7 linked regions of the Homo sapiens genome follow. The protein of the gene in region 7 purifies or fractionates together with the protein of the main gene of each other region. This does not show direct contact. Each region holds a gene or a part of one and is shown on either strand. Other genes may lie near its edges.

Evidence for each region.
Region 1: the proteins of E2F3 (region 7) and AFG3L2 purify together in Homo sapiens (pull-down; one large-scale study listed by IntAct). This does not show direct contact.
Region 2: the proteins of E2F3 (region 7) and HLTF purify together in Homo sapiens (pull-down; one large-scale study listed by IntAct). This does not show direct contact.
Region 3: the proteins of E2F3 (region 7) and NOC2L purify together in Homo sapiens (pull-down; one large-scale study listed by IntAct). This does not show direct contact.
Region 4: the proteins of E2F3 (region 7) and NAT10 purify together in Homo sapiens (pull-down; one large-scale study listed by IntAct). This does not show direct contact.
Region 5: the proteins of E2F3 (region 7) and INTS6 purify together in Homo sapiens (pull-down; one large-scale study listed by IntAct). This does not show direct contact.
Region 6: the proteins of E2F3 (region 7) and NUP205 purify together in Homo sapiens (pull-down; one large-scale study listed by IntAct). This does not show direct contact.

The regions. Positions count from the first base shown.
Region 1 is NC_000018.10:12,356,728-12,360,227, forward strand, and holds part of AFG3L2 (mitochondrial inner membrane m-AAA protease component AFG3L2), read right to left. Parts: intron 3,325-3,500; coding exon 3,200-3,324; intron 2,217-3,199; coding exon 1,943-2,216; intron 105-1,942; coding exon 1-104. UniProt on the Homo sapiens protein: Catalytic component of the m-AAA protease, a protease that plays a key role in proteostasis of inner mitochondrial membrane proteins, and which is essential for axonal and neuron development.
Region 2 is NC_000003.12:149,069,534-149,073,033, reverse strand, and holds part of HLTF (helicase-like transcription factor), read left to right. Parts: intron 1-1,376; coding exon 1,377-1,451; intron 1,452-1,590; coding exon 1,591-1,782; intron 1,783-3,500. UniProt on the Homo sapiens protein: Has both helicase and E3 ubiquitin ligase activities. Possesses intrinsic ATP-dependent nucleosome-remodeling activity; This activity may be required for transcriptional activation or repression of specific target promoters.
Region 3 is NC_000001.11:952,757-956,256, forward strand, and holds part of NOC2L (nucleolar complex protein 2 homolog), read right to left. Parts: intron 3,460-3,500; coding exon 3,339-3,459; intron 3,258-3,338; coding exon 3,167-3,257; intron 1,327-3,166; coding exon 1,248-1,326; intron 1,137-1,247; coding exon 1,026-1,136; intron 533-1,025; coding exon 419-532; intron 1-418.
Region 4 is NC_000011.10:34,136,629-34,140,128, reverse strand, and holds part of NAT10 (RNA cytidine acetyltransferase), read right to left. Parts: intron 3,488-3,500; coding exon 3,354-3,487; intron 3,152-3,353; coding exon 3,103-3,151; intron 939-3,102; coding exon 842-938; intron 745-841; coding exon 634-744; intron 1-633. UniProt on the Homo sapiens protein: RNA cytidine acetyltransferase that catalyzes the formation of N(4)-acetylcytidine (ac4C) modification on mRNAs, 18S rRNA and tRNAs.
Region 5 is NC_000013.11:51,366,037-51,369,536, forward strand, and holds part of INTS6 (integrator complex subunit 6), read right to left. Parts: intron 3,275-3,500; coding exon 2,903-3,274; intron 1,863-2,902; coding exon 1,769-1,862; intron 1-1,768. UniProt on the Homo sapiens protein: Component of the integrator complex, a multiprotein complex that terminates RNA polymerase II (Pol II) transcription in the promoter-proximal region of genes.
Region 6 is NC_000007.14:135,644,917-135,647,084, forward strand, and holds part of NUP205 (nuclear pore complex protein Nup205), read left to right. Parts: coding exon 1-102; intron 103-551; coding exon 552-680; intron 681-1,241; coding exon 1,242-1,315; intron 1,316-2,168. UniProt on the Homo sapiens protein: Plays a role in the nuclear pore complex (NPC) assembly and/or maintenance. May anchor NUP62 and other nucleoporins, but not NUP153 and TPR, to the NPC.
Region 7 is NC_000006.12:20,478,379-20,481,878, reverse strand, and holds part of E2F3 (transcription factor E2F3), read right to left. Parts: intron 2,034-3,500; coding exon 1,922-2,033; intron 674-1,921; coding exon 454-673; intron 1-453.

The sequences.
Region 1 (3,500 bases), on a different chromosome or scaffold from region 7:
AACTCAGATCCACTAACGGTGATGAAGGGGACATTGGCTTCTCCGGCTGTGGCCTTAGCTAGCAGCGTCTTCCCAGTGCCTGGAGGACCAGTGAGAATGGCACCCTTCAGATATGAAAAAAGAAATTACATTTAATGAGAATTCCAGAAAAGTAAATTGTGTATCCACAAATAATTACAAGATATAACTCTGTCTCTAAATCTTATTGATATATATTAAATATTACTTAAACATCTGAGCTATGGTAGAACATTTTTATATTAGTAAGAATAAAAAGATTATCAAAAATAATTTTGTTTCAAAAAATTTGGTAAGAATGTGAAATTTAAAATATTTCCTTTTTTTCCTAGGGCTGATTTTTAGACCTTTAGTCTAACAGTATGTAAAGGGTGACTTGGGCTAGGAATATACTAATAAATCTGCTAAGGTTTACTTAAATAATTTAAGAAGACACCAACACCACACTCCTGATTTATGTAATTCTTTTACTCTTTACAAGTAAAATTGGTTTTTGAGCTCAAATAATTAATAAACCCAACTTCTGACTTCTACTTTCATGTACAAATCAGTACATTTTTAGCATGGTTGGACGTGCAACTTAAAACCTAACTGTGAATTTGTTTTTATTTCCACTGACTACCCACAAACAGTATCCTCTCTTATTTATAGACATACTACCACACTACCATATCCAAATACTGTGAGGAGGTAGATAATATGGTCAAATGATATTTTTTCTAGGCTTTGTAATAAAACCTTAAGGTATTTTTAAAATTTTGCTTATTTTCTTCTTTAAAAGTTTCACAAATGAAGTAGAAATCTAACGACCAATGATGAACTTAACTTCAAAGAAAGATGTGTTTGCTCAAACAATACACTTTTTTTTTTTTGAGATAGAGTTTCACTCTTGTCCAGGCTGGAGTGCAATGGCACGATCTCGGCTCACTGCAACCTCCACCTCCCAGGTTGAAGCGATTCTCCTGCCTCAGCCTCTTGAGCAGCTGGGATTACAGGCGCACAACACCATGCCCAGCTAATTTTTTGTATTTTTAGTAGAGACAGGGATTCACCATGTTGGCCAGGCTGGTCTCGAACTCCTGACCTCAGGTGATCCACCCACCTCAGCCTCCCAAAGTGCTGGGATTACAGGAGTGAGCCACTGCGCCTGGCCCTACACAACTATTATATTAAGTTGTAGAGACAGTTAGGTGTAATGCAAACGGGTACTAAGTAAGTTATAAATTCATAAAATATGACTTTTTATCTATAGAAGTAAGACATAAAAATCAAGGAAATGATTATCTTTCAAAGGATTCCTTTAAAGTAAAATTTATTCATGGACTTTTAAAAGAATTATACCTTTTTATTCATTTACTTAATAGCTGATCCATTTAACAAATATGAAGTTAATGCTCCACGCCTAGCCCTAGGGGCACCAAGCCCTGTAGGGTACAGCCCACCACTAGCACAGTGGGCAAGAGCATATTTGCTGGAAAGGGGAAGGTGATGGTGAGTGCTGTGTCCTCTCCACTGGATCCTGTGCCGTGAACCTCAGCGCCAGCACAGGTGTCCTGTCCACATACATCCCTCGAAGGGACACTGGGTGACAGCAGAGTGTGACATTGTCAGTGAGCTACAGCGGGCCTACAGTTGCTGAGAGATAGGGCATCTAAATCAGATTGGAGGGAAAAGGAAGACGAATCAAGAAAATCTTCCAAGAGGAGGTGACACAGATATTTTCAGGAATACATACACTATACAAGACACATGCACACAGAACTGACCCAAAACGATCCTCGAGTTGGGCAGAGGCTAGCCTAGTAAGCTGAGAAAGAGGAAGGACAGAAAAACAGCTATCTATAATAAGTAATCAAACTTCACAGAATTATAACTTCAGAGATCAAGAAACATTTCAAAAAGTTAATCTTAAATTTCATTTTACCTTTGGGATTTTTGCTCCTAGGTCTTGATACTGCTTTGGGTTTTTCAAGAAATTCACAAATTCCATGATCTCTAGCTTGGCCTCCTCACAGCCAGCCACATCTTTGAACTTCACATCAATTTCATCCTTTAAGACCTTGGCAGTGGTTTCTCCGACACTGAAGAGTCCGCCCATCCCTCGGCCTGTCCGGCCAATGCCAGCAGGCCCTCTTCTGATGGTGTAGAGCAAGAAGGCGATGATGAGCACCGTAGGCAGCATGCTCAGCAGAAAAGAGCTGGGGACACACAGCGCAACACGGGTTAGGACTGGCTGCTCACCTCCAGCTTTCACATGTGGTGCAAGATATCAATATAAATATATATAGCTACACCAAGGTATACCTTCTGCACTTAATACAAAGGAGGGTAACTTGCAAGTGTTCTTCAAAGGCAACAGAATTCCCAAATAAGCTCCATGGCAACCAACTCTTCGAAATAAATGGAGCATCTGCCCAGACTTTAAGTGGGGTTACTAACATGGTCTTATTAAAGACAACCCCCAAAGAAGAAGTTCTGATGAGAGAAGAATCACCTAAAAATCCTGGAAAACTGTGAAATGTAAACATAAATGATAGTTCAAAGATGGGAATGGCACTCTTTGATACAAAGGGGTTCTTTATGCTAAAATCCTACCAAAGGTCAATGCATTGAATGTTAATACCCTAAACCACTGCTTCATCAAGATAAGTATAAATGTGTACAAAAGGAATGAATCAAAAATAAAAATAAAAATAAAAATAAAGATAAAAAGCCAGGTGTGGTGGCTCACAACTGTAATCCCAGCACTTTGGGAGGCGGAGGCAGGTGGATTACCTGAAGTCAGGAGTTCAAGACCAGCCTGGCCAACATAGTGAATCCCTGCCTCTACTAGAAATACAAAAATTAGCTGGGCATGGTGGTGGAAGCCTATAATCCCAGCTACTCTGGAGACTGAGGCAGGAGAATCGCGTGAACTGGGGTGGGGACAAAGGTTGCAGTGAGTCAAGATCATACGACTGCACTACAGCCTGGGCGACAGAGCGAAACCCCACCTCAAAAAAAAAAGAAAATGAATGAGTCATGCAAAAACTAGTGAGTTACTAATAGTTTTTTAAAAATCTGGCCAAACTGATAAAGGCCTGTTTGAGAATATAATGTATAGCCCTGCACCCAGGGACAGAACACAGTGAACCACAGGCAGCACAGTCAACAGTCTACAAAATATTATATTTGAGATTACCCATCACTTTCAGCAATGTAGACAACAGGCACCCGATTTTCTCCTTCTATGCCCAATTCCTGCTGTAAAGTTTCCAGATTCCGTTCAAAGGTGTCCACACTGCCAATATTAAACCAAACGTATTGCTATAAAAACAAAAAAACAAATATCCTAAGAATGTAGTGAAACTAAAAGGTTCAATTCACTAAACGGTTCAACTTTTTAAGAATTTTCCAGAAATACTGAAAATTTATAAATTAAAGAATAAACAATAATAAAAGACTGGCTTTAATAATGGTGGTGATTAAATGTCACTCATTGA
Region 2 (3,500 bases), on a different chromosome or scaffold from region 7:
ATAAATCCATACGTGAACATTTGTACCCAACATACAAAACACACACGTTCCTGTTTATGCACGGCATATTTTTGTATCTGAAATGTTTTAAATGTTCAAGTAGTAATTTTAAGAAAAAAATTGAAGCTGAGACTTAACTCCTTTCAGTAATTTTGCAAATGCAGTGCTAAAGATTTAACTCCAAATTCTTCACATTGTCTAATTTGTAATTTAGGATGAGTTATGCTGAATTTCTTTGAAAAAAAAGTATATAAAGTAATTAATGCAGATCAATTTAAAAATAACATTAAAACTTTTTTGATGTTTGTATCTACCAGTGTTAGTCCTTTTATCTACTAATTGTAGTTACCATATTTACCCTGCTTATTGTTAGAAGGACTTGAGCTTGTTTCTGGTAGATAAGCCCCCGGTTACTTCTGATTTTTTAGACCTGGCCTGATTTCTTCTGAGCTGCTGCTGTGTTCATGTGTTAATTTTCAAAAATATCTGTATCACATATATGTTGATATAAAATTGGACTAACCTAGTTTAAATAGTCAATTAAGTTAGCATAATAATAAAAGTATCCTATAGTGCATGGCAAGTTCCTTATTGCAGTAATAATAAATGGAATGTCATTGACCTGGTAGGACTGAGAAAATATTTTGAATACAACTGATAGCATCACAGAATTTTAATGGCAGAAGGAACCTTAGAGACAATCTAAATTTAGTTCATCCCTTTCATTTTATAGGAATAAGACATGGGGCCATAAAGGTCAAGTCTTGCTGAAACTTACATATAAGCTTATTTGTGATAAAACTGTGACTGAAACTCGGGACTTAAAATTCTTTTATATTCTTTTACCTCCTAACAACTAAAGCACCTGTTCATTCGCTCTTCAGTGAGTAGTGTAATTCTAGAGTTGATTTATGTGCCTTTTTGGCGTTTGACTAGTTTGTGGTTTTTAAATTTAATTTAATTTCAATTTCTTAATTTTTTGGGACAGGGTCTCACTTTCTTGCCCAGGCTGGAGTGCAGTGGCATAATCATGGTTCACTCTATCCTCTACCTACTAGGCTGAAGTGATCCTCCCATCTCAGCATCCCTAGGAGCCAGAACTACAGGCATGCACCCCCATGCCTGGCTAATTTTTTAAAAATTTTTTTGTAGAGATGGGATCTCTCACTATGTTATCCAGGCTGGTCTCAAACTCCTGAGCTCAAGTGATCCTCCCACCTTGGTCTCCCAAAGTGCTGAGATTATTGGCATGAGCCACCACTCCTGGCCCGTTTGACATTAACGCCAGTTAATTAAATGATTTCAAATCTGACTTAAATGCAAGTATTATTTTAATTAGTTTGTTTTACATTGTTTCTTGTTGCTGTTTATTGTAGCTTAAAACAGAATTTGACAAATTGTTTGAAGATTTAAAAGAAGATGATAAAACCCATGAAATGGAACCAGCTGAGGTATTGAACCAATATTTTTTATTTAAGACTACTCAGAATGTTTAAATATACTTAGAATCTACTTTTTGTTTAATCACAGGATCTGCATGTGAAAAAGGAATGGCTTAATGTATTTCGCTTTATGACTTTTTATTTATAGGCTATTGAAACACCACTGCTTCCACATCAAAAACAAGCTCTAGCTTGGATGGTGTCACGGGAAAATAGCAAAGAACTTCCACCATTCTGGGAACAGCGAAATGACTTATACTATAACACAATAACAAATTTTTCTGAGAAGGACCGACCAGAAAATGTCCATGGAGGAATTTTAGCTGATGATATGGGTTTGGTAATTATTTTTTTCTTTAGTTAATAAAATCTAATTTTGTGATTATGATTTTCTAGAAAGTAATTTTGAAGTAAAAAGAGATAGGAATATGTTGGTACCAGTTTGGGACTAGATCTTACTATCTTTGTAGAACACAGTTTTTCCTGTAGTTTTTAGTTAAAATAGTGGTATAAAGATGTGTTCCTCAGTTTTCTTTTTTTTTTTTTTGAGATGGAGTCTTGCTCTGTCACCCAGGCTGGAGTGCAGTGACGCGATCTTGGCTCACTGCAGCCTCCGCCTCCCAGGTTCAAGCAGTTCTCCTGTCTCAGACTTCCAAATAGCTGGGATTACAGGCATGTGCCACCATGCCCAGCTAATTTTTGTATTTTTAGTAGAGACAGGGTTTTACCACGTTGGCCAGGCTGGTTTTGAACTCCTGACTTCAAGTGATCCGCCCGCCTTGGCCTCCCAAAGTGCTGGGGTTACAGATGTGAGCCACCCTGCCTGGCCATGTTTCTCAATTTTCTTTGCTCTTTGAAATTCAGGGTGACCTGTCTTTCATAGGTTTTCTTTTAAAAAGTAAAGACAAAACAATGTTATGTGAAATTGTATTCCATCACAAATATTGTGTTATGCAGAGTATTAAATAGATACTTATGTGTCCTTACACTAGCAGTTTTTATATTTTTCAGTCTCAGTAACCCTTTCTACTCATAAAAATTACTGATTTCAAAGAGCTTTTGCTTTTGTGTGCTGTTATCAGTAGTTATAGTATTAGGCAGTGGTAGCTAAAGATAGCAGTACAAACTCATTGCTTGTTAACATAAATAGCATATTTTTAAAAGAAAAATAACTATGCCAAAACATTAACATTTTTGTTGCAACAACTGGCATTGTCACATTTTTGCACATCTCTGTGTTTGGCCGAATAGATGGCAGCTGAATTCTCACCTGCTTCTTCATTCAGTCTGTTCTGTTAGGTTGTTTTGGTTGAAGTATATGAAGAAAATTTGTCCTTACGACGGTATGTTGCTGTAAAGAGAGGAGTATTGTAATAGCTTTTTAGATAATTGCAGATTTCTTTGATATACTGCATCAAAATTCAATAAATATTAGTTTATTAAAGGTTAATTGTTGTAATATGGAACGCTAAATCATATCAGTGAGCTTTTTATACCCTGTTTTGTTAAAATCTATTTGTGTATCTTGCTCATTGAATGAATATTTTACCCATGTATGATTTTATAACACCAGGCATTGCTCATTTAGAAAATGTTGGTTCATTGAGTTGGGCAGACCTACTAAATGTTGATGTATTTCATATGCAATATCCAAAACTTACATTCATTAATATTACCACTGATGTTATTAGAAAATCATTTACATTTTGGGAAGGCACTATGTTCATAGTGTCACACACAACTTTTCCAACATTCTAATTTTCTATTGAAAACTCACATTTTATCATTGACAAGCTCAGTTGTTTCCTTTGTAGATGACAGCCTCACTTTGTTCATTTTCTAGAAAGTATCTTTCAGACACTCAGTCGTGATTGATAGTTGTCATTCAAGTAAAAATGGTGTCGCATGAAAAAAGTGACTAGTTGAGCTTATAACTCCCATCTTGAGTGATTTTTCTCTAGCTAACCCTCATAGTTTGATATGCAACAGAAGTAGTTAATATGTAGTTTCCATTTCACTACACAGAATATTAAAAAGATTTGTACTGAAGTAATGAGA
Region 3 (3,500 bases), on a different chromosome or scaffold from region 7:
CAGCCTCAGGCCTGGGAGAAGCTGGGGCAGAAGCTCCTGCTGCACACTGGGCCCCTCTGGGGGCTGAGGGTCCCCACATGCAGGCCACCCATGGCTTGGGGACGGGCAGTAGGACTGTACCCTGGCCATGGCCTCAGGTCCCAACACCCAGTGTCCTCCTCCAGCCAGAGAGGCCCTCCCCTGGGGAAGCTGTGTGAAGCAGGGTCCAGGTGGGGCCCTGAGAAGGCCGAGGGCTCTCTTCCCTGCCCACCACCCCCAGGTGCTCTGTGAGACATTCGTGATCCAAGGGCCCAGGTCTGCTCAGAGCTGCAGTGAGGGTCCAGTGAGGGGCACCAACCACAAAGGCAGCCCGCCCTGCCCTTAGGCCGAGATTTCCAATGCAGATGCTGAGGGACACAGACGCAGGGCCCACCACTACCTTGAGGACGGGGCCAAGGAAAGTGTCCTTCTTGTGCCGGCAGACTCTGCTGAGGACCAGGAAAGCCAGCACCCGCAGAGACTCTTCCCCAGTGCTCCATACGATCACCATTCTCTGCAGAAGGTCAGACGTCACTGGTGGCCCCCCAGCCTCCTCAGCAGGGATGCCCCAGGGCCAGCACAGCCCTCCCCAGCCAGGCAAAGGCTCCCATGGCCACCAGCTCTTCCCAAAGCACCTCGGGGGAGCCGTGAGTTAGGTGCTCAGTTACAGAAGTGAACAGAACAGGTGTGTTGCTCCTTGTGAGAAGAGGACCACAAAAGTTTACCACGTCAGACACGCCGACGTATGTGAGATCACACCGGGAAGAAGATACCTCACCGTGGCTTTGCTCACGGACTGAGCCGCGCTGCCCGGGCAGGCAGGGACTGCCTGAGACAGAAACCCCAGGTGGGGGTGGGGGCCAGGTGCTTCTGTGGCCTCTCTAGCCAAGCGGAGCCAGTGGAGTGTGGGCACCACCTGTGCCCTGGCCAGGAGTGGGATGTGGTGGGGGTAGCCGTGTGGCCCCCCGACCCCATGACAGACACAGGGAGGGGACTGGGCCACGAACCTTGAGCAGCATGCGGCACTGCTTGGGGAAGGTCAGGAAGCAGGGCACCAGCACGCTGATGTGCCGCAGCACGGCCGCCAACACCGTCGTCTCCGACAGACAGGACACCAGCTGGGGGCAGGAGGGGACAGTGAAGCCCCAAACCCATGTATTCTGGGATACAAAAAAGGACCGACCACCAGATACAGCCAGGCCCCCGTGCCCTCCCCACCAGAATAGCACCTGTATGGCCGAGCCCAGGTAAGCCTTGATGTCCACACGAAGCTTCCCCCAGAGCGGGCTGCTGGACGGCTGCAGCATCCTGCAGAGAGACCACCCACCCCTGGCTGGGAGGCCCCACGGCTCGGACGCGAGGCTGCTCAGCATGTTGGCGCGTGCCCTGGCCAGCATAGCCTCTACGACTCTGCAGAGACCCCCCGTCTCTCCACTCAAAAAAGCTCAGGGCCCCTTACAGCTGGACAGACACAGGGGCTTAGGAGGACCCTCTCAAGTGCATTAGCTCCTCCTTCAGTGGCCTTGAACTCCTGTCTGCCCTGCCCAGGGTTGGCCACCGCCCTAAGAGTCCCCGGAAGTCCCAGCCTCCAACTCCCTCTCAGACATAAACCTTTTCTAGGTCCCCTTGATCACATCCCCACCGTGAGACCACACGAGGTCCCTAAGCCCAGCAGCTGGTACTCAGCACCTCTGGGGTCGCCCAGGCACCACCAACTGCCGCAGACTGGTTTCCTTTGGCCCACATTTGCTGCACAAAGAAAAGAAAATCAGAGGGCAGGTGTGGAGACTCATGCCAGTACTCACTGCACTTTGGGAGGCCAAGGCAGGAGGATCAAACTCCAAGCCCAGGAGTTTGAGACCAGCCTGAACAACACAGTGAGACCCCGTCTCTACAAAAATATACAAAATATTATCCAGGCCTGGTGGCGGAGTCCCAGTTACTTGGGAGGCTAAGGTGAGAGAATCACTTGAATCCAGAAGGTACGTGTCGCAGTGAGCTATGATCACTGCATTCCAGCCTGGGCGACAGAGCAAGATCCTATCTCGTAAGGAAAAAAAAAAACCAAAAACCAAACAAACAAAACAAAACAAAACAAAACATTTACCAGAGCCCACGCAGTAGGCGCTCACTAAAATCTGCTGAAGCATGGGAAGGACAAAGGGCAGGGCCCCAGAAAGGCCCCCCGTCCTCGACCCTCCTCACACCTGTGCTGACACTGGCTGCTGGGCACCTGCAGCTGCCCACCCAGACCCAGGAGGCAGCTCTGCTCCCCACGGCCTGACTCCCTCCGGTACAGCTGCTGCCTCGACAGGGGTCCCTGACCTGGTGGCTCAGGCTGCAGTGCGTGCTGCCTCCCAATCGCTGCCTGTCCCTCCACCCCCATCTGCCAGCTTCCTTGTCCCCTTCGGACAGCACTGCCTCCATGTGGACATGGCTCTGTTCTATCCGTCCAGCCCCGACCACTACCACCAGCAACAGTGCCCCTGTCTCCTGAGCCGCTGTCGGCGAGACCTCTCCTGTGGGTCTCCTTTCTTCCTTTGAAGGTGTCCTGGGGCAGTTCCAACTCTAGGCCTCCACTGCCTCAAGGTCACATGGCTGCACAGCCCCGGAACCCCAACGTGCTCCATGCTCTACCAAATGCTTGGCCGTGCGTCTCTCTTCTCTGAAAACCTTCCACGGCCTTCTCTGCCCAATCTTTCTCTAAAGGGGAAGTTGAGGCCCTCAGGTTCTCAGCATTGATGAGGCCCCTGTCTACAGACACACACAGCTCCAGGAAACAGGCCAGTCATAGTGCAGAGATCAAGGAGTATGGACAGGACTTACAAGTTCTTACAAAGGGAAATAGAGCAAGAACCCTAACCTGGGAAAATCTGAGAGCAAAGGCAGCTGCACACGCCACACCTTCTGAGACTCTGAGCAGACAACTTCCCTTTTCAGGAAGGAAAGAAGGTGGGGCCGCTCCAACTGGCCCCAAGTGCCCAGCCTCTCCCAACGGTCCCTCGTGCCCCGCTGCCTTCTCAGGGTCCCCAAGAAGACGCTGGCTCTGTTGCCATGTCTCTGTCCTAGCCACAAGGCCTCTGGCTTCTCCTGTGTGTGGTCCCGACCCACCTTCCACCCTACCCCCCTTCACCCCCTCCCCTCTTACCTGCTGCTATCCTTTGCCACCTTTCCAAACAGCAGCTTCTGGAGACAGCCAATGAGGTCTCTGATGCAGAAGGTAACCAGAGCATTGAATGCTGCAACGAAAAGGCCTGGATGTACTCACGGGACAGAGAACGCAACAGACAGCCTGGATGCCAGGCTCCCCCCAAGCTCACCAGCACTGTCCGTGACCTGGAATTTGTTGGCCTCAGCACTTTCCTGGTCCCCTCGGGTGGTGGCCACAGCTGCTCGGAACGCCTGTACCACTTCATGGAACAGCTTTGGAGTGAGGCGTTGCTGAAGGAGCAAGAGTACCAGGGGCGTCAGGGGAGCTGAGA
Region 4 (3,500 bases), on a different chromosome or scaffold from region 7:
GGTTAGGGGAACACAACTACACTCTTTCCCTGCTTTGTCACTTCATTTGGTGTCACAGAAAGTGTGTAAGCTCTGCCCAGCTCAAGATATACGGATTTCTCCATCAAAATATAATTGGCAAAAAAGTATATACACACACATATACACATATATGCATGCTATACCTAAATATTTATATATAAAATATGCAATAAAACTAATCTCTTACACATTTTTTGTTTTTTAAGTATTCAAACAATCTGTATGCACAAAGCACTTCTGTGTGCTGTTGGCTACAGAAGGCTAGCAGCATATTCTTATTACAATTTCATGAATCAGGAAACTAAACCTCAGAGATGGAGCACCTCACTCCCCTAGAGCACAGATGTAAATCGGCCTCCATAACCAACCAGCTACATGAACTAAATGGACACCTCTGACATTAAATTGCACAGCCAGAGTCTTACCATGAAAATGAAAGACAGCACAGCCTGGGACAGAGCAGGGGCCTGGCAAGCGGGTGGTGACCAGCGAGTGACTGCAGGCTAGAACCAGTCCCTCAATTTCCAGCCCAAACCCTTCCTAGGACACCACACCCACCTCCCACACAGCCAAGCCATTCCCAACCCTCCTCCCTGTCCCCACCCGGCTCACCAGGCTGGGCTGGCTTCCCCATGTTCCTGTTCTGAATGATGTTCAGAGCCAGGGAAGGAGAGAAGGTACTGAACTGGTAGGAGAGCAAGGCTAGGAACCGCCGTCGGAAATCTGTGGGGTGCCATCACGCAGAGTTAGAGGTCTGGAGGCATCCCCGGCAGCCCCCAATCACCTCATTGTCTCCCCCAAACCCCTACTCCTCAGTCACCTTTCCAGAAGGCTGCAAGCCAGCCTCCCTGGTCAGCCTCATCCTCATCAGTGAGCGTCTTCAGCATGATGCACGAGTGCTCTCCGGTCAGGTCATTCTGGGCAACACAGAGGTTTAACTGGCACCAAGAACCCCCTTTTTTTGAATAACCCATCATTGATGAAGGGTAAACACTCAGAGAAGAAAGGCTTAGTGCTTCCGCAGGCCTCTCCTTCTTTCCAGGCTGGGGGTAGGCGCCCTTCTCAAACAGCCCTCGCCTTCACCTTCCTCATATCACCTCAGTTCACACACAACAGCTGCAAAGATCACTGTCCTGCAATCTCCTCAAAAGTGTCACAGACACAGAGAAGAGCTGCTGGCTCTTCTGGGCCTGCCTCTTGCTCGGGACGTGCGGGAGGGAAATATGTGCTCCTCTCAGGTAGATGCTGAACTCAGTCATTAGGGCTTAAGCGCCACACAATCCAGTCAACATGGGTTTGATGCCTCACAGCAGGAACTCCAGGGCCAAAACCTACACCTCAGTGCTGGCAGCCAGTCTGCAAGTGCAGGCTTCTTTAGGTGTTAAAATTGTGACTATTTTTACATTTTTTACTCCATAACAACAAAGCCCCACACCATAAAAACACCACCAAGTCACAAATGAACAGTGCACAGTGCAAGACCACACGGACACACCGCAGACCACACCACAGCTCACTAGCTTGCGTTCTCCTTGCAGCTGACAGCCAAACTTACATCCTCAGCCTCCACCAAATGTACTGACAGAGACTCAACCCATCTCTGCAGCTCCCTGCCTGCACGGAAGCAGCCCAACACCCAGCAGTCCTCACCAGTCCCACTTTAAACCCTCGGACGGACACTGGACACTAGCCTCTGATACTGACTTTGCCCTCTCCAAAATCAAACCTCCAACACTTCCCTCTCAGCCGATGGACTCCCCTCATCTGGGAAGACAGAAGCACTCAGAAGACAATGTCTTCATCCTCCCAACCCCAGATCAGCCAGCCAACTGATGCCTTCCATTCCCACGCTCTCTGCCTTCCCTGTTCCGAAGGATGAAGTAGGTGGTCACCTCTCTTCCTGAATCTCGAGTCCCACCCACCACCTCCTCAAGGCCTGCACTCTGGCAGTCAGCCCCCCTCACCCATACCACTAATTGCAGGATCGAACCCAGCAGCAAAAAACATTCTCTAGAATCTCCCATCGGACAATCCTTCTTTAGCGCCCATCTCCCTCCAGCGACCTTGTTTCTCTGCTCCCTTTCGCTTCCTGAAAGAGTCGCCTGTTCCCCTTCTAGTTCTTCACCTCCTCTTCCCTCTGGCCAGGCCAAAGCCTCCACTCCACTGCAGCTGCTTCAATGCAGCTCACCGCTGCTGACAAATCCAATGGCCAGCTGTCCTCATCCTCCTCATCCTCTCAACAGGGCTGACTCCCATTCCCACTTTTTCACCTTGACGTGTGACACCACACCCGACTTTCTCTTGCGCATCAGGGCTGTTCCTTCTCAGTCTTGTATGTGCTGTGTCCTCCTCTTCATTCCTCTAAACGTTAGGGTCCAAGGAGTCACTCTCACATCCTTTCATTGGCTCCAGATATTTTTCATTCACTCAACAAAAGTATTTACTGAACACAAACTACACAGCAATTGCTACTCTAAGTGCGAGGAATACAGCAATGAACACAACAGACAAGAGCTCCGTGCCCTCCTGCAGTGCATTCTATTATGAATATGCTGATGGCTCCCAAAGCTCCATCTCTAGCCCCAAACTTCCCTACCTCCAAATTCCTGTAGTCAAATGAATGCCTAGTCCACATTTCCACTTGGATGTCCAATAGGCATCTCATATTAACATCAAAAAAGAACTCCCACTCTTCCCTCCAAATCTGCTCCTCCTGCAGTGAGTCCCATCTCCGACAGCACCTCCAACACCCAGTTTCTCAAGCCAAAACTCTAGGAATTACCCTTGATCCTCCTGTCCACTCTCCTTTCCCAGAATCTGATGAACAAGTCCACGTGTACCTCTGCCATTTTATGACTAAGCTCAACGCATGCACCGTGTAGTCGGAGAAGAAATGTGTGATGATGTGGCCTGTCACTGAGGATGGCTGTTTCCATGTCCATCAGAATAAACCTCTTCAGAGGCACAGCCACCTGCTCAGAGCGATGCAGCAGGGAGGCACTAGGGCTCTTTGCAAGGACAGGCCTGTCACCTACCATAACGGTAAACCTAAACTTCTCCTCTGCTGGATGCCTCACTCACCGGGGTCTGTCTCAGATAAACAGGAACAAATCCAGCTCGTTTCCAGAACCTGCAAAGATACAAAGACAGTAGGTCACTGTGTGTGGCCTCTGGGGAGTGGCTGATAGACACACAAGGGCAAGAGCCAGGAAGAGCACGCCACAAATAGCAGGCTAGCACCGATACCAGCTACCAACAGAGACACACAGCCCACAGAACTCTTCTTTCTCAATGCCAAGGAGTGATGCCGTGGAAGGAGGGCAGGCACTTACTTGAGGAGCCTGGGGGTCAAGCCATAGGAAACACCCAGGTAATCCAGGCGTTCGGCAGGCCTCTCATTCAATTTGAGGAGTAAAGGAGGCAGGTCCTTCCGGGGAGTGATGACCTCTTCCAACAAGCTGACAGCCTGGGAAGATGCC
Region 5 (3,500 bases), on a different chromosome or scaffold from region 7:
GTTTGTCCCTAAAACACTCTAGGGCTAAACAATGGGAAAGAGGTTGTTCCTTCCACAACCGAAAAGAAAAAGGAAAAAACAAACAAAAAAACAAAAAACTAATATATTCAAAATATATTCAAGGGCTGCAAACACTCTAGTGAAATTTGGGCTCCCCAAGCAAATACTTCAATAGCTTCTTCTCATGCTCTTTGTAAGCTGAATATTGAAAGGAATGTGAACAAAGTATGAATATAATCTCCCACAAAATGGAAGAAGAAATGAAAATTGGTCAGCAGCATTTAAAAACCATGGTATTCTATTACAATTTGAGAGCTAGCAAATCAAGGATAGACATCTATAATACAGAGTATAGCAAGCAGTTAAAGTTCAAGTAACAACTTTTAAAGATTTTCAGTAACAAATATGGACAGACTAAAATTGCATCTGTATACGTAACTGCTGACGGTTTTAAGAATATCCCAAGACACTGGACATTTTATTCCTACTTCCTTGCTACTTAGAAGCTAATATAAATAGCCACCATAATACTACACAACTCTCTAAAAGGTGGCAGAAGTGAAGTACAGATACCGGGGATATAAATTCCTAATGAGGTTTTAGCTGACAGAATGTTACCATAAAGAGCATAATAGGTTAAATACTCAAAATTACATGAAAAGTTATAGCCTTATCTTGATCCTGCAAACTGGCCTATGCTCTAGCCACTCCAAAAGTACAAAAAGAAAAGAAAACCAGAAACAAAACCAACTTTATCTAAAATCTTCATGTGTAGCATAGAAGAGACAGGGGGACAAAGTATAAGTGTGTTTACATTTAGAAGGTGGGATGTGATAAGCCCCAAGTTTTCTTATAATACTAAAATCCCCAAAATCTTGAAGGGAAAATAAAAAATGTTTTTAAACTCATACAACTATGTTTTCCAGTTAATTGCACTTCTTAATTACCATTTATAACCTTTATCCACCTTCTTTACACAGTGATCCCTCGGTATGGATGGGGGATTTATTCTAGGCCTCCCTATGAACACTAAAATCCACGAATGCTCAAGTCCCTTGTATAAAATGGCCCAATATTTGCATGTAACCTATGTACATTCTCCCATATGCTCTAAATAATCTCTACATTATTTATAATACTAATACAGTGTAAATACGATATGAATTAGACTGAATTATTTAGAAAATGACAAGAAAAAAAAAGCCTGTACATATTCAATACAGATACAACCATCCATTTCCCCGCCTCCAAATACTTTCAATCTGTGGTTGCTTGAATCCAATGAATGTGGAACCCAGGGATACAGAGGGCCAATGTACTAATGATCCTGGGCTACTGAAACAATCAGAATAAGGCCCATTTGTCCAATTCTTGTCTCCTTAATTACGTTTTCCCATGTAAAAATAAATGACACTCAAGTACGTTATTTTTAGTCACCAATATTAATGTATAAAGGAGAAAAATTAAAGGTTATAAAATATTAATGTAAAGATATCAAAAAGCTACAGAGAAGAATAACAAGAATTCTCCAAGTATCCAGTAATTTGTAGGGAGAAAAGGTCCATAATTCCTGAAGAATGTATGTGTGGCTGTTTTCTAAGTGAATTTCTTTCAATAAACTAAAAAAGAATAAGAATTTATTTATATGTTGGTATGCCATATACATTTATAAACAATACAAGTGCAAAACGGATACTATTAAAATACTGCCTATATAAACTGTGGACTCATTTCATCACCATTTCATTATATGCAATAGTTTATTTACCTTGATGCTTCTTTAATGACATTTTGTAAAAATATTAGTCTTGTTTGTAAACTGCCTTGCACATGCTTCAGTAAAGTGAAGATTCTTTCATATTCTTAAAGCAAAAGAAACAAAAAGAAAAATTAAGTGCCTTTCATTTGTATTCTTATTCAATATTCTTCTTTTGCAGTTTATGATATTAAGATATACTGAGATAAAAACATTCTACATAAAAATTTCACCACTCATTAGAGATTTTATATTTTAACATATATGTAAAAGTAAGTACACAGCAACAAAGATAAAACAACTAATCAAACCCTGCTTTGTAAGTAAAAGTTCCTATTAAGGTATCAAACATAAAGCTTAAAAGGATGAGTAAATAGCTTTATGGTAGTATCACTAAAAAATAAGAACAAGTGGCCTTTACAAAACTCCATCCTTACAGTTTAAAATTCTAACAGCTAACATGGGGGTAACTGGGAAGTGGGGGTAAAAACCAGACAGGTTAAGAGTGTTATTTCAGTTTAAAGTTTTCATATGAAACTCTGCAAGGGCTATAAACGTCTGAACTCCAAGGACTGATTTGTTCCCATTTCTGGACCACCCAGGTCATTCTACTACCCCAGGGCAAGTGATCTGTTAACATCCTCTAAATGAATGCCAATAATACTGAACTTTTTCCCACGAAGTTCTTTTGTGTTCATATACCAGAGAGCTTTCATAACTTTAGTTTTTTGGCCTAAACATATCCTATAATATCACAGTTTAACTACTAAACATAGTGGTAGGCACTATGACAAGAACTTTACAGACATGAAGTCATTTAATTTTCACTATATCTCTTGTGAGCTAGCTGCTATATTAAAATTCCATCGTTGGTCAGAATATTCAAGACTATGGGTTCCTGTCAATTTATCTGTACAGTGTTGCTCTGCTCTCAGTCCCTGCTGCCTACCACCATACCTAGTACCTTGGAAATAGAAGATATTTGGTGTTGGTCAGATGAATAAAGGATCTTAACTGAGATGTTGTTCAAGACAGATCTAGAATCATATGTATTCTTTTACTACAGTTACTTGACTTTTTTTTTCTTTTTTGCTTTTTGAGCACATACAGAAATCAGATCTGAGGTTCGTCTCTTATTATACATACTTCTTCCTGGCTTTCGGATCTCTTTCATTATTTGTGCTTTTAGTTCAGTATTGACCTCTTCATGGCTTCTGCAATGCATCAATTTCTTTCCTTTGTTGAGTGAAGATGCTGGTATGTTCTCTTCAGCACATTGTTCTTTATCTCTTGGCTCCTCATGATTTTCTAAAAATCCACCAACAGTGAGGTCATTGGTTCCTAAATGGTCATGACCAAGAGCCTCCATATGATTGGTTGGCCGTTCCAGTAAACTGGCTGGAGAAGATGCTGAAAATTCCGTATCCATAGCATTTGGTGTAATGTCTGATGAAAGTTGGTCTGCAACATGATTTTCAACCACATCATGTATTATCGAATCATTAGTGGTTTCTGAAACTAAAAACAAAGATACGGGGAAAAAATTATGGGATCCAGTCTCAAAGCATACAGTAAATAAAGCTACAAAAGAACATTACTACAGCAAGTCAACTGTTTTCCTTGACTAATGCAAGTTAACAAATAATGTGATATAGTTTTTAAGCATTGCCAAAGATACGGTAGATTTCAATGTGACACATACACAGTATTTACAAAATATTTACAATTTTTACCCTTGGAGGAA
Region 6 (2,168 bases), on a different chromosome or scaffold from region 7:
CTGGTGTTGATAAAATCTCCACTGCTCAGAAATATGTTCTAGCAAGACGGCGCTTGGTGAAGGTGATCAACAATCGAGCTAAACTGCTTTCCCTTTGTTCTTGTATCCTTTATGAAATCATGCACTTGAATGATGACCTTGAAATATAGGAACTGTTCACTTATTCTCATATTATTTGGGCACCAAAACCAGGTGGAAGGAGATAAACTTAATTTTTTCCCAGTAAATGCCTAATGTATTTCCAAATCATAGTTTTTGTTCTTATCTTTTAGAGTAGCTGGTAATACTGATAAAATACATGGGCACTTTCTGTTAGGGAAGAAGGTAGGGACATGAGACTGCTGGCACAGGACCCCAAGGTCCCCACCTCTTTCCTCAGCACACCTTGCTGCTTCCTCTTGAGGAGCCTTCAGTGAGACCCTGTCTGTTAGACTGAGGCTGTGGGTACCTCATTAAGTGAGTGCAGTCTGTCCTTTTTTCTTCTCCTCCGAAACTGGTGTGTAAAACATATTTGATGAGATTATGTTCCTTTAATCTGAGCTCTGGTATAGTTATCATAGAGACCTGCCTATTTATTCTTTGGCGCCATCTGGAGTACTACTTGTTACATTGCATGCCCACGGATTCTCAAGATTCCTTATTTGCCTCGAGAACCTTGTTTAAAAGCAGAAGACTGCAAGGTAAACTTTCTGCTAAAAATTAATGAACCATAAATACCTATTTGTGCCTTGAAAAGCTAGTACCAGTTTTTTTTTATTTTTGTTTCCAGATTACTTAGAGTGAATTGGGTGAATCAAGAGCTGTTTAGTCACTAGACGTAGCTATTTCTTGCATTTTACTTTCTGTTCACGGGACATTGTGCTGAGCATAAGAATATTCTAGAGCCTGCTCATCAGCTGTTCCTTAGCTTCTTGCTGCAGTTAGGGGGCTGATCCAGCTCTAGAAGAATGGAGGAGGTCTGCTATTATGCTGATTCTTATTGCTGGAGTGGGCCTCTGTGACTGATGGCCATATATTGGATCCCTTAGGTGGAAGGAAATAGAGAAAAGCTGAGAACCCTGGTCTGGACCAGTGAAATGCTTTCTAGGGGCTTCCATTTGCTAAAAGTTGAAAATTGAGTTCCCAATCTTGAGCCGTGTTTTTCATGGTGCTATTGTTATTATTCATTGTCATCAGGTTCCTCCACTGTGTGGTAGATAGGTACTTGCACAGCCGGTATGACTCTGTTTTTTTATCTCTAGATTCCTTCGCCTCAGAAACCAATCTAGATTTTAGAAGTGGGCTGGCTATAGTGAGCCAACATGATTTAGACCAGGTAAGGTTCTATTCTCATATTCTTTTATTTTTCTTCATTAAAGTAAAAGGGCTGGGTGTGATGGTACACATCTGTAATCCCAGCATTTTGGGAGGCCGAGACGGGAGGATTGCTTGAGCCCAGGAGTTTGAGAGCAGTCTGGGCAACATAGTGAGACCCCGTCTCTTAAAAAAAAAAATTGGCATACTGTGGTGGCATGCACCTGTAGTCACAGCTACCTGGGAGGCTGAGGTGGGAGAATCACCTGAGCCTGGGAGACTGAGGCTGCAGTGAGCTGTGATTGCACCACTGCACTCCAGCCTGGGCAACAGAGCAAGACCTTGTCTCCAATAAATGAATGAAAGAGTGAAGCAAGACCTTGTCTCCAATAAATAAATAAATAAATGAATGAATGTAAGTAAGTAAGTAAAAAGGAAAGCCTGGTATGTTAATAAGATTATGATTTTCAGGGTTGCTTACAGACACCTGGTTTGAACTCTAGCTTGACCATTTTAACAGCTATATGACTTTGAACAACTTACTTAACTTCCGAGCCTCAATTGCTTCATCTAAGAAATAGGAGGATTCAACCTCAGAGGGTTTTGTCAGAATTAAGTGAGGTTTCATGTATGTGAGGCTGCTAGTGTTGTACCTAGAACATGGTAAGCATTCCGTGATTGGTAGGCATTATGATCTGGAAACTCCTGATGTCTTTTGATTAGCTTTGTAGAACTTTTTAGGTACAAAGTATCACTCAGCACTTATTTTTCAGGAAATAATTTAATGGTGAGATTGAGAGCAGCCAATACAAATCCCGCCGTCATAGACCATAGTACACAACACTGTGCTCTTACTAACCTGTTGATCAGTAGTG
Region 7 (3,500 bases):
TAGAACCATGGATAAAGATATTCTGTAACTATGCAGTTGTACGTATACACATAGATAACCCATAAGCCATCATTTCCAGATTCTTATTAGAAACAAGCTGAAGACGTGTACACATCTGTCAGATACACACGTGGGTGCACACAGACATCTATGTAACAGATGAACAGCAGTCCACTTTCCAACTGCAGGGACCTCTTTAAGGATGCCGTTGCTGGATGCTCATCAAATATAAATCCTTTTATCTCTGACAGTATCTAAACAAAGTCTCTTTGTAAAGAGACTTCAAACTTCTGGCTTAGAAGCTGAGGAGGGAAGAGAGAATGAGAGAGAAGAAAACAGTAGGAGAGAAAAGAAAAGAACGTGTGGGCGTGGATGTGAAAGTGAGGAACTAAGAAACCAGGCAGTTTGAAACGACCCCCTCAGAGCCGGGGCATGGGGAGGACTCCTACTCACATCCATTGGACGTTGTTTTTAGACTTCTTCTTAATGAGGTGGATGCCTTCCAGAACGTTGGTGATATCATAAATCCTTCTCTTTTGCACTTTTAGCACTTCTGCTGCCTTGTTCAAATCCAATACCCCATCGGGTGACTGGCTCAGGAGCTGAATGAACTTCTTGGTGAGCAGACCAAGAGACGTATCATACCGCGTTTTTTCTGAGGGAGATTTTGGAGCTTAAAGAAAAACAAAAACCGAGCGGGTGGGGGATAGGGGGAAAGGTAAAGAAATGAAGGGTGTCTTTGCAGTCAAGCAAGCTCTCTTTCCCACTGCAGCCAAAGTATTAGTATCTGAAGCAAGGCTGTCGTTGCTGTTGGTGTTGGCAAGTCATAGAAAGCTATGAAAGTTTTTTATTAGAGCAGGAAGGGAAGGTAAAAATTCCAGGGTTTGATTAAAGCATTTCACCTTGAATTTCTCAAGAGTTTCTACCTTGACTTACACCATTCCCTGGCTCCAATGAAGAATTTACATATAGCGGGCGCTAAAAAATATCTGTCAAATGAATGAAAGAGTGCTGTGGCCTCAGGGGACCAGCACACACGAGGCCTACGGTGATGGAGCCAGGCTATGAGTCTCACTAGCACTGCAGGACAAGGTCTTAAACAGACCCATCTCAAATGGCCTTTCAGGCTCTGGTATCTGTGTGTGCGTGTATCACCTGTTCACCAATTTTCCAAACAATGCTTCATTTTGATAAATAATTACCTGGAAAAGTCTTCTGCCAAATCTCCCCATCTCTCTTAAAGGAAATTTCCTTACTTAATATTGTACTTGTTCCCCCATAGGTGCACAGGTCAAGGTTTTAATTTAGTGTCACACAATTTGTGGATTGCCTAATGCATGAACTAAAGGAAGAGAGAGAACAAAGTCTAATTTAGCCCTTATGTTAAATGCAAACACATACATAATGGGACTAGTTGGCTATTTCTAACCTACGTTTCTCTCTCTCCCACAAGAAACGGTAATAGTATTTGATAGAAAGAGAAACAGCCTGCAATTTATCGGGCTCAATCAATTCTTACGCTATCATATGCTGAGCTGGAGATTGAGGTCGGCACAGACACTGGTGACTCTGGCATAGTTCGTGGACATCCAGTTTGCCTCAGACTCTGAAGCAATGTCCATTAAGGGAAGTTAAAATTAAATTTGATATAGAATGGTGCCAAAAGTTCGTATTCCGAGTTGAAAAATGAAACTACATACAGTTAAAAGAAGTCTTCCCTTATGGTACCAGTGTGACTCTGTAGCCTTTCACTGGTTGTCTGCTGACATTGTATTTATTTTTTTGGATAAGCACAGAAAGAAATGAAAAAGAACAAAACATGCCAGAATTATTCACACCTTGGCATCCTTCCGGCCATAAGCTTTGAAACTTGGAAATGCCATACCAAGGAGAATAAGGAAAGAGATGAAAAGATCCTTACTTTTTGGACTATCTGGACTTCGTAGTGCAGCTCTTCCTTTGCCCTTGGGGGTTTTTAAACCATCTGAGAGGTACTGATGACCGCTTTCTCCTAGCTCCAGCCTTCGCTTTGCCTGTAATAAGAAAGTGCGATCTCTCGTCACCGGTCATATGGACAAGAACAAGAAGGGAGGCAGTTTGTGGGCTGGCCTGCCAAATGCTGCAGGCTCATGCCAGCTCTCACCCCTCTGCTCCACCCCACTCAGCATCTTGTCATTCCCTAGAGCCAGGATTCTAGCGTTGTAGGCTGGGTTGTCATGCACACTCTCTTCACCTGCCGTGATCATCCGTCCACACCCAGATGGACAAACACAGCGATCCTTCAGCATTAGGTTCAGGAGTCACTTTGTTCATTGATTCAACACATCATGTGCCTGGCATGGGGTTGGATGCTAAGAATATCACAGGCGCCGTGGGGCTTAAATTCCCTTTCCACAGTGAGTCTTTCCTGCCCATCTCCCATTCTCCGACCTGGGTTGGACCCCCTTCCTTGTGCTCCCCAAACACTCTGTGTTTATTTGTATCATGACACTTATTCGGTATTACTGTAAGACTTATCTGTTTCTCATTTCCTTTAAGGCAGGGACTGTTTCCCATTTATCTTTGTATACCCAGTGCTTGGCACAGAGCCTGGGTTTCTGTAGATTTTCAATCACTCTCTCTATATACTGTATATTCAATGAGAGAAAGGGTGATTGGATCGTAACACAACTAGTCACAGACTACAAACGGCCCTTCATCGGGAAAACAAATACTGCAAACATGCAATCTTGGGCTTCAACCACTATTACTTTCTCCATTTTCTTATCAAGCCTAGCAAATGAGAAGCCCTTATCTAAGTTTTTAATTTAACTCCAATTAAATTTTAAAATATCCACATAGCGTCTTCTAGGTACCTAGGCATTGGGCTTAGTAAGCAAGATAGATAAGGGGCTTCGAGTCCAAGAGAAAAGATAGATGGTTAAGCAGTTGTTAAGTACTAATTGTATGGGTATGACAGGTGTTTTAGAAAATAAATGGCACCAACTGGACACTCAGCACAAAAATATGTATTTAGGCTCATTTTCAGGCAGATTCTTCTAATGAGGAGATTTGCAGTTTCTTTTTTTTAAGACAGAGTCTTGCTCTGTCGCCCAGGCTGGAGTGGAGTGGCGCGATCTTGGCTCACTGCAACCTCTGCCTCTGAGTTCAAGTGATTCTCCTGCCTCAGCCCTCCCCAAGTAGCTGGGACTGCAGGTGCACGCCACCACTCCCAGCTAATTTTTGTATTTTTAGTAGAGACGGGGTTTCGCCATGTTGGCCAGGCTGGTCTCGAAGTCCTGATCTTTGGTGATCTGCCCACCTTGGCCTCCCAAAGTGATGGGATTACAGGCGTGAGCCACTGTACCCAGCCGAGAGTTGCAATTTCAAAACAACTCCCCGTGATGTGAAAACGTAAGTAATAACTTATCAGCGGAAGCTAGATATTCAGCCCCTCTATGGAAAGTTACCAGCTAACCCTGCACCGTCTACTACGATAGCCACTGGTTACTAGCTCATCC